3 linked regions of the Homo sapiens genome follow. The protein of the gene in region 1 interacts with the protein of each later gene in a biochemical or structural test. Each region holds a gene or a part of one and is shown in the gene's direction. Other genes may lie near its edges.

Region 1 (7,034 bases):
TGGTGTTTGCTTTCATTTCTGCTTTCTGTTGCAGGTTGGGATTGAGTTTCAACAGCATCTCTGCTGTTGACAATGGCTCTCTGGCCAACACGCCTCATCTGAGGGAGCTTCACTTGGACAACAACAAGCTTACCAGAGTACCTGGTGGGCTGGCAGAGCATAAGTACATCCAGGTAATGCAAAGCCACTGCTTATGTGAGGAATATCCAAAAAGCAAGACCCCCACCCTGCTTATGGGATGCTGGGAAGCAGGAAGCTCTTCTTAGAAGTTTTTTTTCCAGAGTGTCTTAGTTAGAATTTCTATGACAAAATACCATAAAAAAAATTAAATCATGAAGCACAATTTACATTAGCTAGATTTCAATAAAGTTTTTGATTTAGAAGTATGGAGATGAAACTTAAAGTCTTCTGTAATGCTGATATTTTTTTCAGTAGGGGTGGTGATGTTGGTGCCATAGTGAGTAGGGGGAGTTTGAAGCCACAAGTAAAATAAAAATTCTTTTTTTTTACTGTCACTAATTTTAATTTTCAAATTATTCAAGAATTGACTGGAAAGAGCTTCTTTGGTCTAGCTCCTGATTCTTTTTGACATGGCCTCATCATTTTTCTTTATTTCCTCTAAAAAAAAAATGAGATACGTTTGCAGAATGTGCAGGTTTGTTATATAGGTATACGTGTGCCATGGTGGTTTGCTGGCCCTACTGACCCATCCTCTAAGTTCGCCCGCTCACCCCCTACCCCCTGTTGTGTGTTTTGTTACCCTCTCTGTGTCCGTGTGTTCTCAGCATTCAACTTCCATTTATGCGTGAGAACATGCAGTATTTGGTTTTCTGTTCCTGTGTTAGTTTGCTGAGGATGATGGCTTCTAGTTTCATCCATGTCCTTGTAAAGGACATGATCCCATTCCTTTTTATGGCTGCATAGTATTCCACGGTGTATATGTACCACATTTCCTTTATCCAGTCTATCATTGATGTGCATTTGGATTGGTTCCATGTTTTTGCTATTGTAAAATAGTGCTGCAATAAACATTATGTGTGCATATGTCTTTATAGTAGAATGATTTATATTTCTTTGGGTATATACCCAGTAATGGGATTGCTGGGTCAAATGGTATTTCTGGTTCTACATCCTTGAGGAATTGCTACACTGTCTTTCACAATGGTTGAACTAATTTATGCTCTCACCAACAATGTAAAAGCACTCCTATTTCTCCACAGCCTCATCAGCATCTACTGTTTCCTGACTTTTTAATAATCACCATACTGACTGGCATGAGATAATATCTCATCTCCAGCCACAGGGAATCATTAATCTATTTTATCATTTTTGTTTGTTTCATAGACCATAGTTTTGTGTAGATTCCAGGAATACTTTAACATCTAGAAATTTTATAATTTTAACTCCTGTATTTGGTTTTATAATCTAATTTTGAGATAATCCTAGTATATGATATGAGTCTAATTCATTTTCTGTATGTGATAGCAATTGTCCCAATGTCATTTGTTGGAAATAATATTCTTTCTCCAATGAATTGTCTTGTCACTGTTGAAAATCACTCGATCATAAATGTAAGGGTTTATTTCTGGACTTTCAATTCTATTACATTTATCTATATGTCTAGTCATATGACAGTATTATACCCTTCAATTACTGTAGCTTTTGATTACGTTTTGAAATTAGAAAATGTAGGTTCTCCAACTTTGTTCTTTTTTTTCAAAGTTATTTTGGCTATTCTGGTTCCTTTGCATTCCATATCAATTTTAGGATCTACTTTTTCATTTCTGGAAAAATATTCTTGTAAGGCTTTGAAAGGTATTGTTTTGAATCTACAGATCATTGGGAAGAATTACTATCTTAATAATATTGAGCCTTCCAAGTCACAAACAAGGGTTATTTATATCTTCTTTTCTTTTTCTCAACAGTTTTTGTCATTTTTAGCATACATGCCTTGCAATTCTTTTACTACATTCATTGTTTTTCATTCTTTTTGATGCTGTTTTGAATTGTTAATTTTTTTATTTGTTTGCTGCTAATGTATAAACATACAATTGATGTTTATATATTGAGCTATCCTGGTACTATGCCAAATTTGTTTTTAGTTGCAGTAATTTTTGTGAGTTCCTTTGGATATTCTATATTCAGGATATATTATTTAAAAATAGACAGCTTTAGTTATTTTATTTGGATTCTTTTAGGTCTCCCCCTCCCCCACAACCCACCCTTTGCATTGGCTGGAATCGCCAGTGCAATGTTGAACAAAGGTGATGAAATTAGACATCTTTGCCTTATTTGCTAGTTTAGGAGGAGGGAGCATTCATTTTACCATTAGTTACGATGTTAGCCACAGGTCTTCTATAGATGCTCTTTATCAAGTTGAGGAAGTTCCCTTCTATTTCTGATTTACTGAAAACATTTATTATGAATTTTTTTCTTACATGTTTTTCCTGCTTCTATTGAGATAATCATGCGAGTTTTGGCCTTTATATTTTTGATATAGTGTATTACATTGATATTACTTTGATTGATTTTCATAAGTTAAACCAATTTTACAACCCTGAGATAAATCATGTTTGGTCCTATAGCATGAAATCATTTTATATGTTGTGAAATGTAGCTTCCTAACATTTTGTGAAAGATTTTTTGTCCATATTCATAAGAGGTATTTGATTACATTTTTTTTTCTTATGATGAATTTTGTCTGGCTTTGGTCTTAGAAAATATTGACCCCATAGAATGAGTTTGGAATCTACTTTTATTTTGTTCTACACAGACTAATACTTACGTCTTGATATTTTGTTCTCTCACTTTCAATATTAACCATAAATTGCTCACCAAACACCCCTTCCTTTACTTGCTAATCACTACTGGAATATAGAGGATGGTAAATGACAACAAGAAACTTCCAAAATATGAGAACCATAAACCATACATATAAGTGTTGCTTTCACTTTAATATTCCTTGTTTCTGTTTTTATATGACATCTACTAATTCGCTTTTCAGCCCTTACAAAAACAAAGCCGTTTTCACCAGCACATGAATGTGAATGTCCTAGTGGGTAGAACAATATTTCAAATTTTTTTTTTTTTTTTTTTTTTTTTTTTGAGTCGGAGCGTCTCGCTCTGTCACCTAGGCTGGACTGCATACAATGGCACAATCTCGGCTCACTGCAACCTCCGCCTCTCGGGTTCAAGAAATTCTCCTGCCTCAGCCTCCCGAGTAGCTGGGATTACAGGCACGTGCCGCCATGCCATGCTAATTTTTGTATTTTTAGTAGAAACGGGGTTTCATCATGTTGGTGAGGCTGGTCTTGAACACCTGACCTCATGATCCATCCGCCTCGGCCTCCCAAAGTGCTGAGATTACAGACATAAGCCACCACGCCCAGGCTTTCAAGTTATGTTTTAAGGGAGTACTTCATAGGTTTTATAGCTCACTTAAGATCTTGTTGGTGGCAGGACGCAGTGGCTCATGCCAGTAATCCCAGCACTTTGGGAGGCTGAGGTGGGCGGATCACGATGTCAGGAGATCGAGACCATCCTGGCTAACATGGTGAAACCCCCTCTCTACTAAAAATACAAAAAATTAGCCGGGCGTGGTGGTGGGCGCCTGTAGTCCCAGCTACTCGGGAGGCTGAGGCAGGAGAATGGCGTGAACCCGGGAGGCGGAGCTTGCAGTGAGCCGAGATTGCGACACCGCACTTCAGCCTGGATAACAGCGCGAGACTCCGTCTCAGAAAAAAAAAAAAAAAAGACCTTGTTGTCTTAGTGTTATATTCTAACCTTGCTTGTATGATTTCAGAGAAGTTGCTTCTTGACCTACAGAACTCATATCCTCAAAGTGAACTGTAAACTCATTTCTAACATTCTTTGTATAATTCCGGTTTTTAGGGACCCTAAGAAAATCTATGGCCAAATTACCATTATCTTAAACATGATTGTAAAACATAATTCAGAAAAAAAACTCTGATTAATTATATTGCACTGTATTCAAGTAAAACGTATTACGTAAAATATGTATTTGTTAAAACTTCCTAGGTCTATTCTAAATGCTGTGATGTTTAAATATTTAAGAATTTCTTGGAGTTTGTGATTCTTTATTTCAATTCCAGTACTTTATGCTCTCTTTTTCTTTTTCACTACACAGCACTTTCTCATTCTATATCATTTTGTTAAAAGGTGTATATATTTTTTGTCCTGAAAACATAATATTTCATGTAGACCCAATATAGTCATGTAGACCTGATATATGAAATAACATTTATTCATTCAACACATATTTATTGAACACCTGGTCTGTTCTAGTACTGGAGATACAGCCATAAACAAGCAGAACCATTCTTGTCTCATGGAGCTTTTACTCTAGAGGAGAGAAACAAACAATATCAAATAAGCATAATATGCTACATATTGATAATGCTATGAAGAAAAACATGTAACGTAATTCTGCCCCAGAGAATGGCAGAATGGGATGGTCAGGGAAGGTCTCTCTGGTAAGAAAAAACGACTTACATGAGGCAACAAGCCTTGAAGACACCTTAGAGATTATTCCAGGTTGAGTAAACGGTGTTGATAACTTAAGAAGAGATCATGCTTTGTGCATTAGAAGAGCAGCAAGTAGACCAGATGACTGGCTTTTACAGTAAGAGAAAAGGAGGTCAGAGTAGAAGGATGTCAGATCATGTAGGATTTGTAGGCCCCTTTGAGAACTTTAGATTTTATTATTCTGCATGAGATTGGAAACCACTGGAGTTCTGAGGCAAAGAACATATAATTTGGTTTACTTTCTAAAGCAATTGCTCTGAGAGCTTAAAAAAAGAATAAAATTTAGGAAGGCAAAAGGGGAAGCAGGAATAATAATCAGGGCAACTTCAATCATTTGGAAGGAAACAATGGTGACTTGGACAAGGTTGTCGGAGTAGAGGTGGAGAGAACTAGATTAAGTGTACATTTTGAAGGCTGAGCTAGCAAGATTTGTTGTTGATTATGTAGAGAGCATAAGAGAATTGGAGCTCAAGGATAATGACAATGTATATAGCCTGAGCATCTGAAATGATTGGCATGCAATTTACTGAGATGGGGAAGACAAGACTAAAGAAGGGAAAAGCAAATTTTCAAAAGGAAGGGAGAAATCAAAAGTTTAATCTGAGAAGTAGTCAGTTATTCAAAGTGGGGCCTGTCGTGGTGGCTTACGCCTGTAATCCAAGCACTTCAGGAGGCTGAGGTGGCCGGATCACTTGAGGTCAGAAGTTCTAGACCAGCCTGGCCAACATGGTGAAAACCCAACTCTACTAAAAACAAAAATTAGCCGGGCATGGTGTGTGTGCCTGTAGTCCCGGCTACTCAGTAGGCTGAGGCAGGAGAATAGCTTCAACCTGTGAGGCAGAGGCTGCAATGCACTGAGGTCATGCCACTGCACTCCAGCCTGGGTGACAAAGCAAGATTCCATCTCAAAAAAAAAAAAAAAAAAAAAAAGTGAAGGATTAAAAAATAATAAAAAAAATAAAATGTTTACCTGAAGGGCCTCAACATATTTAGAGAATAATAATTATTTTCTATCGTTTCATGTTGTAGGTTGTCTACCTTCATAACAACAATATCTCTGTAGTTGGATCAAGTGACTTCTGCCCACCTGGACACAACACCAAAAAGGCTTCTTATTCGGGTGTGAGTCTTTTCAGCAACCCGGTCCAGTACTGGGAGATACAGCCATCCACCTTCAGATGTGTCTACGTGCGCTCTGCCATTCAACTCGGAAACTATAAGTAATTCTCAAGAAAGCCCTCATTTTTATAACCTGGCAAAATCTTGTTAATGTCATTGCTAAAAAATAAATAAAAGCTAGATACTGGAAACCTAACTGCAATGTGGATGTTTTACCCACATGACTTATTATGCATAAAGCCAAATTTCCAGTTTAAGTAATTGCCTACAATAAAAAGAAATTTTGCCTGCCATTTTCAGAATCATCTTTTGAAGCTTTCTGTTGATGTTAACTGAGCTACTAGAGATATTCTTATTTCACTAAATGTAAAATTTGGAGTAAATATATATGTCAATATTTAGTAAAGCTTTTCTTTTTTAATTTCCAGGAAAAAATAAAAAGAGTATGAGTCTTCTGTAATTCATTGAGCAGTTAGCTCATTTGAGATAAAGTCAAATGCCAAACACTAGCTCTGTATTAATCCCCATCATTACTGGTAAAGCCTCATTTGAATGTGTGAATTCAATACAGGCTATGTAAAATTTTTACTAATGTCATTATTTTGAAAAAATAAATTTAAAAATACATTCAAAATTACTATTGTATACAAGCTTAATTGTTAATATTCCCTAAACACAATTTTATGAAGGGAGAAGACATTGGTTTGTTGACAATAACAGTACATCTTTTCAAGTTCTCAGCTATTTCTTCTACCTCTCCCTATCTTACATTTGAGTATGGTAACTTATGTCATCTATGTTGAATGTAAGCTTATAAAGCACAAAGCATACATTTCCTGACTGGTCTAGAGAACTGATGTTTCAATTTACCCCTCTGCTAAATAAATATTAAAACTATCATGTGACTTCATGTAATCAGGCTGAACATTTCTACAATTACTAGATGTATTAGACGTAAGTATTTTCTTTAGTTAAACCACCCATGTTAGAAATGTTTTCTGTAGAATTTATAAACAACTATCAATGCAGACAATTTAATAAGCCTGGGGATGATTTACTTACAGTAAACATTTATCAAATTGTACATTTGTGCTATCAACAATTAATAAGCAAATATGTGAAAATAGTTTCTGTCTTCTATGAAGTTAGATATTTGATGGTTAAAACCCCTATAAATCATAGTTTCATATGGGAAAAAATAATTGAAATACAGTGTAAATTTAAATAATTTATTAAGTATAGCAAATAATTGAAATATGGTGGACTAAATTTTGTCATAGAAATATGTGCAAGTTATAGTAGTGGCTCACATGAGAGGTAATCAATTCTGCTAATAGTAGCAGAATGAGTGCAGTGGAACATGAAAAACT
Region 2 (7,034 bases), on another chromosome or scaffold:
AGGGCATTAAATATTTTAAATATTTAATTAAACACTACTGCATGAAGGGTGGGAAAAAAATGGGGCTCCATGGCTCCATTCTCAAGCCTAATCAAGAGGATTTGCTCTAATACATTACACGGGGAGAAAAGGCACTCACATTTCTTTGTCCACCCTTGTGCTTGGGCATTCACTGGAGTAGTTCATTTAATCCTCCCAAGAGTCTTACAGGGGACATATTAATCTCCTTCGACAGGTAAGAAAATGATGATGCAGAGAGGCTAAGTAGCAACCATTCTGGAGGTGGAAAGGACGAAGGCTCTGCATCAGACTGGCCTGGGCTCCATCTCCACACTGGGAGAGCCCCTCAGTGTCACTGAGTCTGTTTTTTTTATCTGGTAATGGGAATGATATCTACCACCCAGTGATGAATCATTGAGCCAAAGGCTTTATTTTTTCTTGAGTCTTTGGGATAAAGTTGCATTTTCTGCTGTACCTAATAGGTGAATTATCTTGAGCTTAGCAGAGGTACTGATGAGTAAGGGAATTGTCCCTGGAAATACTGCTCCCCGCTTGTAGGGAAAGATCTAGGTCTTACTGGCAAGAAAGGAGAATTCCATCAGCCAGCAGCATGAACTGAGGGACCTCTATGACATTGGGCAGGGCTTCAAAGGGATCAGATACAGTCTTTAACTTTCTGGAAAGACGAAGCAATATCCCCAGGCTTTGTGGGGTAAGGGGCAAGTAAGCATCTGCCTATCCCTTACAGACAGAAAGTGGCTCCCAACGTGAATGGGATGGGGCTTGGGGAGGGCTGTCCAGGGGGGATCCCAGAATGGGGGTGGGGTTCATCTTGGCAGCTCTTTCTCAGAGATTCCCAACTCAGTCTGGCCTCCAGTGGGGCCCCGGATTTGAATCTCAGGGATCTTTCCCACAATGGCCCTGGGAGCTTGCTGCCTGAAGCATGGTCAAGGCCTCCCTTCCCCACATATGTGCCTCAACCCATGCACATTCCAGGCCTGGCTTTGGGTCAGTACTTGGACACAGGACAGAACACGGTGGGGCTACAGGATGAGGCTCCACTCTGGCTTCTCAATCGCAGTCTCTCCAGTCACTCCACTGTTACAGGTCTGAGGGCTGGGTTCCCTCAGAATCCTCAGCATCCTCAGAATCTACCCAGAATAGGTCTCTGTGGGCCAAAGTCTGTGCTTGTGACAACCACCCCTGCAGAGTTGGAAGCATGTGGTTCCCAGAATCTGCTACGAGGAAAATTGGGGCTTGAAAGAAGAGATCTTTGAGCAGGGGTGGAGGGTGAAGCTTGAGTCACTCTGGTGACATCCCCGACGTATCATGGAGGGTAAATATGACCCAGATCCTGCCTTTGTGGGGAACAATTCCTTATTCCTCAGCACCTTCAGCATTCCTGCTCAGCAATATTCCGTGGGGGAGTCCCACCAGGGATGCTCGTCTCCCTTGGACAAATCACACACCTTACAGCAGCCCATGAGTCCCGGCAGGACCACCCTGTACCCCTGTACCCCTGCTGCTCCTCTGAATTTGGTGCTGCCACCCCTACTCAGCTCCAACCACATAGCTTCTTTCTGGCCCCCGGTCACGCTCAGCCTCCTCCCTCTTTAGGGGCTTGCCATTTGCTCTTCTCATAGCTGTCCCTGCAGCTCATACTTCACCTCCTTCAGGACTTTACTCCCGGATCACCTTCTCAGTGAGGCACTCCCCGACCACCCTACCAAAAACAGACCCTACCCCCAACACACCCTATGCTTTACTTTTCCCTGTGGCATTATATCTAACATATCATATGTTGTACATTTTTAATGTTTTATTATCTGTTTCTATGAGATAGAGTTGAAGCTCCCCAGAGAAGGGCTGTTTATCCCCAGTATTTAGGACAGTGCCTGGCATGTATTAGAGGCTCCAGAGATATTTATGGAGTGAGTGAATGGAAGCTGGAAGGGGTGGAGGAATTTTAGGAGTCAAAACAGGCAAAAGGCTGGGCCATAAAGCTCCACTTCAGGTGGCACTCGGGTGCAGGTCTAGGTCTCTGGGTACACTACGATACACAGTGAGTGTTTTGAAAGGCATGGGTGCAGCATTTGGGGAGGTGCCCCTCCTCCACCCTGGTGCTCTCATGGCCTCCATAGTTTGTGTACCAAGAACAAGTGGGCTCTAACACTCTCTTCTGGAGAGTGACATTTTTCTCTTGGTCCATCTTCCTGCTGCTGACTTGGCCTGGGTGAAGCCCAAGCAAGGCTCCACATGGGGTCAGGGCATCCTGCCTTGAGGAAAATGTGCTGTTGGGTGTCAGAGGTGGGGCCCATCCTATAACCCTCTGTGCTTCCATTTCATCCCTAATAAGGACTGTAACCAGTGGCTGGACCCAGGGCACGGAATTCCACTGGGCATGGAATTCAGATGTTTCCAGGTGGTGGTGCTGCTGGGATACGCCAGCACAGATTCTTCCACCCATCCAGCAAATTTACCCACAACCACATGCTCACCCCCCATGGAGGCCTGGCCTCCTCTGCCACGGGAGCATGGCTTCCAAGCCTGAAATGTCACCTCCTCTCTGCAAATCTCCCTCGATTCTCCTTGCTCTTAAAATCCCACTTTCTCTTTGAAGAAGAAAGCTCTGAGTGTGTGAGTGCTGGGGTGGGGACGCTCAGATGAGATGAGGGACACTTCATGCATTGTCCTTCCTCTCCCTTGTCTCACAGTGTATTATGAACCCCCTGCTGAGCAGGACCTGAGGCTAAGCTCAGATTTGCATCTTGCCTAGTGCTAGGTATAAAGTAGATGCTGCATAGATGGCTCTTAGTGAACAAATAAATGAGCAAATCGACCAATAACTGAATGAACAAGTTAGCACCACCTGTCTGGTGCCATTTCTGGTTGGCTTCCCTAATATATATATATGGAATGCAAGAAGTCCATGATCACAGGTAAGAGCTGACAAATTGCCTGCCATCAATACAGTGGCCTTGGGGTAGGGGAAGGAGCACCGCATAGAAGGTCAGGCAGGTCTTGGCTTTAATCCGCCTCCAACTCTGGAAGGCTTCTTCCTCATCTATAAAATGGGGATGTTGATACCCATTTCCTGGATCACCACTGGGCCTGGGTGTGTGACGGTGGAAGTCTCATGCTCTGCAGAATCCTAAAGGAATGCTAGGGGCTGATCCTGCAGGAGGCTGGCCCTTTCTGGGTCTAGGGCCAGGTCTTTGTCCATTTCTTCTGCTGCTACAGGTTTGCCAGGAGCTGCAGGGCAAGCAGGGATGCCTGGACAAGCTGGCCCAGTTGGGCCCAAAGGGGACAATGGCTCTGTTGGAGAACCTGGACCAAAGGGAGACACTGGGCCAAGTGGTGAGCAACTGGGTGTCGACTTCAGGTGTTTCCAGGTGGTGGTGCAGCTGCAAGGATATGCCAGTGGGCACGCACAGAGCCCATCCCAGGAAGAAGGTTGTCTGAAGGTGGCACTGGGTCATTTCAGGACAGATGGGACCTGCTGTTGGGAGGACAACAATGCTGCCTCCCTTACCTCTGTTATTACCCTCACCTTACTACACACTCCTCCTGCCAAGAGGATTCATTGTTACTGACCGGGCTGGTGCTTTTGCTCAGGACCTCCAGGACCTCCCGGTGTGCCTGGTCCAGCTGGAAGAGAAGGTCCCCTGGGGAAGCAGGGGAACATAGGACCTCAGGGCAAGCCAGGCCCAAAAGGAGAAGCTGGGCCCAAAGGTAGGTGGCTGGTCTGTGGCCAGTCTGAGAAGGGAAAGGAGGAAGGACAAGGGTCCATGATATGACCTGAGGCGTGCTCAGAGTGCCAGGGAGAGCCCAGACCCTTGATGCTGCAAAGGCTTGCCATGCACCCTCCCAATCCCCACAACTGCAATATTTTCCTCTCACCCTCCACAGAGGAGCCCCAGAAAGCAAGGAGAGTCTCCCCACTTCTCTCTCTGACCCTAAAGTTGCGGGCAAAAAGCTCCATTGCTAACAAAACCACACCTGCTGAACGCGCTCTTAGCTGTGTTTGTTCCTGTGTGTTCCTTCTTCAGGAGAAGTAGGTGCCCCAGGCATGCAGGGCTCGGCAGGGGCAAGAGGCCTCGCAGGCCCTAAGGGAGAGCGAGGTGTCCCTGGTGAGCGTGGAGTCCCTGGAAACACAGGGGCAGCAGGTGAGCAGTGGAAAGAGCTGGGCTGGGCTGGGTCCAGTTCTCCTGTGCCTGCTTGGAGCTGTCAATGCCTACACCCCCTCCACCACCCACAAAGGCAGAGGTGGTATCGCTGGAACATGGAGAGAATCTGTATCCAAGAAGGGTGCATGAGGGGGCTCTGGGGACTGTTCCTATCTAGGGAGAGTGAGGCGCAAGCAATGGAGAAGTCTGTATACAGGGAAGGTTAGTTGTTGGGTGGCGGGGCAGTTTTCCACAGCGGGGTTGATTGCTGGGTGACAGGGACAGTCAGTGTACAGGGAGCTGCATGGCTGGGTACTGGGGACCATCTGTCTATTTCTGGGCAATAAGGATAGTTAGTCCATGTATGGGAAGGTAAAAATGCTAAAAACAAAAAAAATAAAATGAGTACATAGCTCACCCAGTTCTTCTTTTACCCCAGGGTCTGCTGGAGCCATGGGTCCCCAGGGAAGTCCAGGTGCCAGGGGACCCCCGGGATTGAAGGGGGACAAAGGCATTCCTGGAGACAAAGGAGCAAAGGGAGAAAGTGGGCTTCCAGGTAAGGTAGCAGCTCCTGGCCCAGGGAAGCCCCGCTGGGGCATGGGTGGGCAGAGAGGAAGCCCTCCTCATCCCAGAGGAGGGGCTCTGGGATGTGTGCCCCATTAATGGCAGCTGGTGGGTGGAACTCAGGAAAGGCGGACAGGCTGGAAGGCAGGAGCATGGGGCTCTGGTCTTAGCCACTTAGTACTCATGGGAAAGCAACCTGGGCAGCTTCTCCATCTGACTATCGGGAAAACTACAACTGCCTTCCCAATTCATAGGACAGTTTTGGGCATTAAAAACCCAGTGGATAGGAAACACATGAGTGTGTATTCCTGCCCAGCAACCCCCCCACCCACCCAATGGAGATGCCATTATATTCCAAGACTTTAAAGTCACAATGTCATCTGGTTCAGTGTCAGTGAAGTACAGGCAGCAATTTGTTCATAGCAGAACCATAAGACATCCTTACACAGCAGAGGCCAGCTGTGTCAGTAGATGTGGGCTTGCTGTGGGTCAGCCCCACAATATGTGCCCGAAACTAGACACCCTTCCTTTGGGGCCCAGACTCTGAGCTCTTCCTTCGCTCTCTGGACAAGTCTTTACTTGGCCATTTTCTCCCCTCCAGATGTTGCTTCTCTGAGGCAGCAGGTTGAGGCCTTACAGGGACAAGTACAGCACCTCCAGGCTGCTTTCTCTCAGTATAAGAAAGGTGAGTTCCTGGATCTGAACCTGGACCCAGCACTGGCATTGGGCCCCACACTAGATCTTGACCTTGGTTTGGCCTTTGGCTGGGGCTAGACCTTTGGCTGGACCTGAGGCAGAGCCTGCCCTGGGTCTAGGATGGGAATGAGCTGGGACCTGTGTAGGGCTGGACCTGGGACTGTGGCAGGGGGTAGGGCTCAGGCTGGGATGGGGCTAGAAGAGGGCAGCCACCTGCTCCTGGAGCTCAAAGTAGATCCAAGGGGGCAAAGGAGGAGGATGTGGCCCCTATCACCAGCTCACCAGGCTGGCAGTAGCATAGTTAAGGCCATCAGGCTCCTGAACTACCCACCAACCTCAATGCCACCTGTGCCCTGAGATAAATTGTTGTCCTGAGTCCAGTGCAATTCAGTAGAGCCTCTCTCCTGCCTACTTTGTGCTGGTCCCTCTGATAGATAAGGGGCTACCCAACACGGGCTGCATTTCTTAGCTCAGAGGGGCCAGGTATGGGAGTCCCCAGTGATGCTGCTGCACATCCCAAGGCAGCCCAGAAACCAGATACTGTTCTGGGAACTAGGACTGGGGTTCTGCTCTGGGGGTACAAGGCAGGTGGGGGCCTGACCTTGGTATGTGGCCATCAGATATCTCACCTTAGACGTGCTCTTGGTTCAAATAGGGGGCAGGCTGCTTCTGGGCTCCAGCCACTGCTGGGCTCTACCTGCAGCTCTGGAGGTATTTTAAAGCAGACTTTGCCCTAACCCTGGAATCCTGAAGAGTCAGAGGCCTCCAGGGACACACAGCTGAGGGCCTGGTGCCTTTTTGAATCTCCACATCAGTGCCCAACTGCCCCTACTCTCCTCCGCCTTTCCTGATATCAGCTTTGAGTTCAGGCGCATCTCATTGAGCCAAAAAATAAAAGATTAAAGTTTTCTGAAGTAGTAGAGCATAAAAGGGCTGACTGGGTGCAACACAGGTTTGGCTTCTAAGTACCCAAGCTCTGAAATGAGAGTTTCAAGCATTTGGTATATATCTCTTTCTGCATATGCTCTAATTCACTCAGAGGCACAGTGACAGAAACACACAGAGGAACATGTCCATATGCACCCACTGCATGTGTGTGCACTTAAACACCATCACTCACTCCACCTCCATCTACATACATGAGCTCATATGTTGTCTATATAGCACACACAAATATGCACACACATCCAGATGAACCTTACATACTCCCACGTACCTTTGGGTAGATGCACATATATTCAAAGGCATGCCCACATATGTGCATGGCACATAAACTTAGTAATGGTACATGAACTCTTATGCTGACTTTGTTCAGGGCTGCTCTGGGTGCCACCCTGAGCCCATGGAGAATCTTAAGGACGATGAGTCAGGGTGCAGCCTGCATTCTGAGCAGCCCAACAAAGCCAGGGGCACAGCCTTCTCTGGAGCTTCCAGTGTCCTTTGCGGAAGATTTCCATGCATGGGCCCAAGAGCCACAAAGACAGACTAAAAAGAGATACTTGACATGTCACACAGGCAATGCTTTTGTGAAGTGAGCCCTCATTTTAGAGATGAGGAAATGGAAACCCTGAAAAGGGAAGTGACTTTCCCTTGCCCACGCAACAGCTT
Region 3 (4,684 bases), on another chromosome or scaffold:
TGTGTATGCACGTGTGTGTGTCCATTAGACACGGCTGATGTGTGTGCAAAGTATCCATGCGGAGTTGATGCTTTGGGAATTGGCTCATGAAGGTTCTTCTCAAGGGTGCGAGCTCATCCCCCTCTCTCCTTCCTTCTTATTGACTGGGAGACTGTGCTCTCGACAGATTCTTCTTGTGTCAGAAGTCTAGCCTCAGGTTTCTACCCTCCCTTCACATTGGTGGCCAAGGGAGGAGCATTTCATTTGGAGTGATTATGAATCTTTTCAAGACCAAACCAAGCTAGGACATTAAAAAAAAAAAAAGAAAAAGAAAGAAAAAACAAAATGGAAAAAGGAAAAAAAAAAAGAACTGAGATGACAGAGTTTTGAGAATATATTTGTACCATATTTAATTTTTAAAGTCTCTGGTATTAGCCTCATAAGTTATTGACTATTCCCCGGGGTTGGCGGGGAGTGGGGACATGAGTTGGTCTGCCTGTTGTGGGGCCGGGAAGGGGAGGGAGTCAGGCACAAGTGGCCTCTTTGTTTGGTCTTAAAGGCATCCATTTCTGGGAATGAAGCCATGTTCGCTGCTAACACTTTTGGATGTTGTGAGGCCACGTGGAGTGTGTGAGAGACTAGGTTTTATGGATGGTCTGGTTCAGGTACCAGGTCTGCTGGAAGGTTCCTGTTCGGATAAGCTGGTAGCTACCTAGCTCTGAGCCTGCCTTCAAGAACACCTGTGTTCATCCTCTGATTCTCTGTGTGTACCTCTTGTGGCGTTTCCTCTCCCGGGTGTGAACATCCTAACCGTTATTGTGCAAACCCAAGAACGTCAGATCCCAAAGCACAACAACCTGGATGGACTTTGGGAACATCTAAGCAATGTAAGAGAGAGGTGCACTGAGAGTACGTCTTGGTCCCCTCCACCCTGAGAGCATCTGACGGTCCTCAGTACTGAACTCCCGGAAGCTGCTCTGAGCCCGGTGACCTCATCTGGGCCAGGTGTGGTGCCTGAGCTGAATGCTCAGGTGCTTACAGTGTTGCAATCCCTAAGAGAGTAGAGTCTGGAGGAGAAACCGTGAAAAAGACCTTACACACCACCAAGAACTTCCGAATGGGCGTGAATCCACCGTTTCTTCTCTTTGCAAAAAGAACCACCACAGCTGCTCAAAGAACACAGTGAACTCATCACTTTGGTTCATCAAAAAATCATCGCCCATGCGTTATTCCTGAGTGCATTTTCTTACAACTTTTTGACTGCTTCCTTTTCTTCTTCTCTTAAGAGTTGTGGGCTTAAGAATGGGATAGAGTCATAATGGCAACCTCCAAGCCCTCTCAATTCTTGATTAAGAACACAGGTAGACATGAATCCCAATTGTCTATTGCTATCTTATTTATATGATTCGGGAAAATACAGCATGTAAAAATATTGCTGAGGAGCCTCAGTGATTGGGTACAAGAAGCAAGAGTACAGAAATTATTTTTGCCAAATTTATTTTGTAAATATGAGGGTCTGTACCTAAATTTAAAAAAAAAACACGTAGAACTAGGTATTTTGTTCTCTTCTTAGTAAATTTGTAGTGGTTGTATACTACACTAGCTGCAATTTTCACATTTTTCTAATTCAGAAAGGTTTTTCTTATATTAGGGGAAAAAGTATTTATTTTAATATATAAAATCACTCTGAAAATCACTCTCATAAAAAATGGAGCGCATGTAAATTTTTATCAAAGAAAAATAAACAGGTGAATGGGGGATAGTGATTTTCTTTTTTCAGCACAGTCTACCTCAGTGTATTGTTAAGATGTGATTCAATCATGGACATCTTTGAGATTTCAGAATTCTACCTGGAACCGGTCTGAATCAGGGAACGTGTGTATCAGCTGATTCGAATGCCAGGGACCAGTAAGAATTTTGAGGGAGGGAGTTGGGATGGAGAAGGTATGGCCTTTATGCGAGCATAGATCCTTTTCTTCCTGGCTGGTAATATTCTTCTCTGAATTTAATCTTCCTTTAAAAAAAAATCCTCCATCTATTGTCACTATGTTCCCCAAACATAAACTAAGTTCCAGGCTGTCATGATGTATCTGATATATGGGGTAACCCAGCAAGGTGTACCTTCCTTTGGTGAGAGATGGCTGCCGGGGCAAAGACGGGCTTTGATTCAGAGCAAGCATTCCCACCTGTTCCATGGAATCCCCCTGAAGTGAGCACAAAGGTGCCCTGGGCTCCCTGATGGTTTATGCCCACTCCTTTCAGGCTGGTGATGCACCTTACACACAAACACCTAATGCAATGTCTTTTTAAATTCTCCAAGTGGGATGGGAGCATGTGAGGGAAATTCCAATCCAAAACCCATTAATGTGCTGAACGCTTTTTTTTTTTTTTTTTTTTTTTTTGCAACAACACCTTGGACCTCTGTGTTGGGGTTTGACTGACCTCAAGCTGATATTATTGGACCTTGTGCAGCTTTGATAACCCATGTGAGAGTCTAGGCAGGACCAGTGGGGCCCAAATCTTGCTGCTCTTGTACTTTTAGGCACTGCCCTTGCAGACTCACCTTTCTCCACCTGCCCTGGAGAAAGGTAGGGTGTGCTGGGCCTGCCCCTTGCAAATGGGATTCACCAGTTTCATTTATTTGACTCTACTGCCACAGTGAAAAGAGCAAACAGCTATTGGGTTGCAAACCTCCTTTGACATTAGGAAATGTTGACTTTGTAACAATAAAACTTTGGTCCTAGAAAGACACGGTTGTCCTGGGAGTTTGTAGTGTTAAGTTGCAACAACAACAACAAAAAGCAACAAAACCAGCTTAGGATAACACTTTTTGTTGCTTGTTCTTAAAGATGTCTCACTATGATTAAAACCCTTTTCATTAATGTAGTGAAAGCCACACAGGAGTTCCTTCTTCCAGGAGGAGAATACCAAGCACATCACTTTCTCTCTGCATCAGTGATGTCAAATACGCATCAGAAAATGTTCAGGTTTTAGGAGCTGTCCTAGGTGCTGTTTCATCATTGGAAGCAGTGAGAAAGAGAAGCACTGCTGCTTGTCTGGATATAGGCTGAGGATGATTGAGAGAAGCTGTGGGAACTGACACAAGGGTCTGCATAGGTCATCCTGTGACCCTGGGGACTATGTTACCAACTGACAGACAGATCTTTCACTGTATCCTAGCAGGGCAGGTAGTCCACCAAGAAATGTGCTTATTGGATTGGGAGGTGTTTATTTGTAGTCTGCTGTAACACGTGTGAAAGAGCAGGAGCGTCATCAGCATATGACTTGCGCTGGTCATCCGGTAAATGGATGTGCTGTAGTCCCAGTGCTAATCATTTCTCTCCTTCACAGTGGGTGGAAGTTTAGGGTTAAATGTCCTTTGAATGTCACCTGGTGAGTCCTTGACACCTTAGGCTCTTCAGAAACAATGGTTTTGTTGAGGATGGGGAACAGGGAATGCCGATTTTATATACATGGTACACAGAGAGGGGTGTCACTTCAGAAAATCTTCCAGCATGTTCTTCAGAATATTAATTTATATGCGAGGTGAGGTTGGGAATGAAAAGAACAGGTCAGCACTTTTTTTTTTCCTAGAACATACAAAAGAACATGGTGGACTTTCAGGGAGTGCAATGGAAGGTGAATATTTCCTTAAGGGTCCCCGAGAAATGGGAGTGAGGGGAGGGGACACAATGGCTTTTTGAGCTTACTTTTACCTTCTGATACTAGTCAAGGTCCAGAACCAGCCACCAGCCAAATTTCTATCTGGGTGCGGGCCACTGAAAATCCTTGTTAAAAACCAGATCACAAATCTGGGGCTCTTGGTCCCATTGGAGAAGGAAGGAAGAGCCTCAAAATAAGTGTGCACCCATGCACATATTCAGGAACAGCTTGTTTAGTCTTTACACTTTGCCTGAAAGTTGCTTCTCCTCGTCCCTTTGTGTGCCTGGGTGGCCTCGGCCCTGTGCGTTGGCAACGCAGGATCAAATGTGCTGCAGCTTTTGCAGAAAACAACTCAGAAACACAAAACCCCCCAACAGCTCAATTATTATTTTTTCAATGTTTTCCTACAAGAGCCAAGTAGCACCATGTACAGAAGACGCCTTTTTTTTTGGAATATTGAAATCGTTCTGCATGTAAAATATGGGATAATGACCTGTTTATATTAAAATTCTGATTAAATTATCTGAGAATACGCTTGTTTTTGTGTGGTGTCCCGGTAAGGACCTGTCGTGTGGTCGGGGGATGTGGCTATGAGTTGGGCTGTGTTAAGGAAAACCTCTTGGAATATGTAGGTGCCTTTTTTTAGAGGAGAAAAACACCTAGATTCTTCCACACATGAAAAGGGAGGTTAAATAGTTGCTACCAGCAGAGTTGATGACTCGTAGGGACATACTTGTATGGCCAAACTGGTGGTTTAAATATTGCACTATTTCCATACCATTTGGTAAGTAAGCGCTTCCCCAAGGGCTCCCAGACCTCCCCATGGTCCAACCACTAAAGGGTTCACTCCGAGAATACCAATGAACCTTCAAGATCTTGCTCTATTCTGACATGCGGGAAACTCATATGTTAAGTATTTTCAATGTCATCCTGGGAGTGGAGACCTGTCCCAGGTTGGGTGGACAGGTGAGTGACCATGGGTTAGACCATGGGATTGAAAGCCTTTTGAATAGTCTTTCTTGAGTGGCTTAAAACAGCAACT

What was found. Proteins that work in one complex are often made in the same cells at the same time.
Region 2: the proteins of DCN (region 1) and SFTPD form a complex in vitro, tested with the Homo sapiens proteins (one study listed by BioGRID).
Region 3: the proteins of DCN (region 1) and INSR form a complex in vitro, tested with the Homo sapiens proteins (one study listed by IntAct).

Annotation. Positions count from the first base shown.
Region 1 is NC_000012.12:91,144,793-91,151,826, reverse strand, and holds part of DCN (decorin isoform a preproprotein), read left to right. Parts: intron 1-34; coding exon 35-173; intron 174-5,574; coding exon 5,575-5,769; 3' UTR 5,770-7,034. UniProt on the Homo sapiens protein: May affect the rate of fibrils formation.
Region 2 is NC_000010.11:79,939,086-79,946,119, reverse strand, and holds part of SFTPD (pulmonary surfactant-associated protein D precursor), read left to right. Parts: intron 1-3,240; coding exon 3,241-3,357; intron 3,358-3,615; coding exon 3,616-3,732; intron 3,733-4,049; coding exon 4,050-4,166; intron 4,167-4,605; coding exon 4,606-4,722; intron 4,723-5,331; coding exon 5,332-5,415; intron 5,416-7,034.
Region 3 is NC_000019.10:7,111,745-7,116,428, reverse strand, and holds the end of INSR (insulin receptor isoform Long preproprotein), read left to right. Parts: 3' UTR 1-4,164; downstream 4,165-4,684. UniProt on the Homo sapiens protein: Receptor tyrosine kinase which mediates the pleiotropic actions of insulin.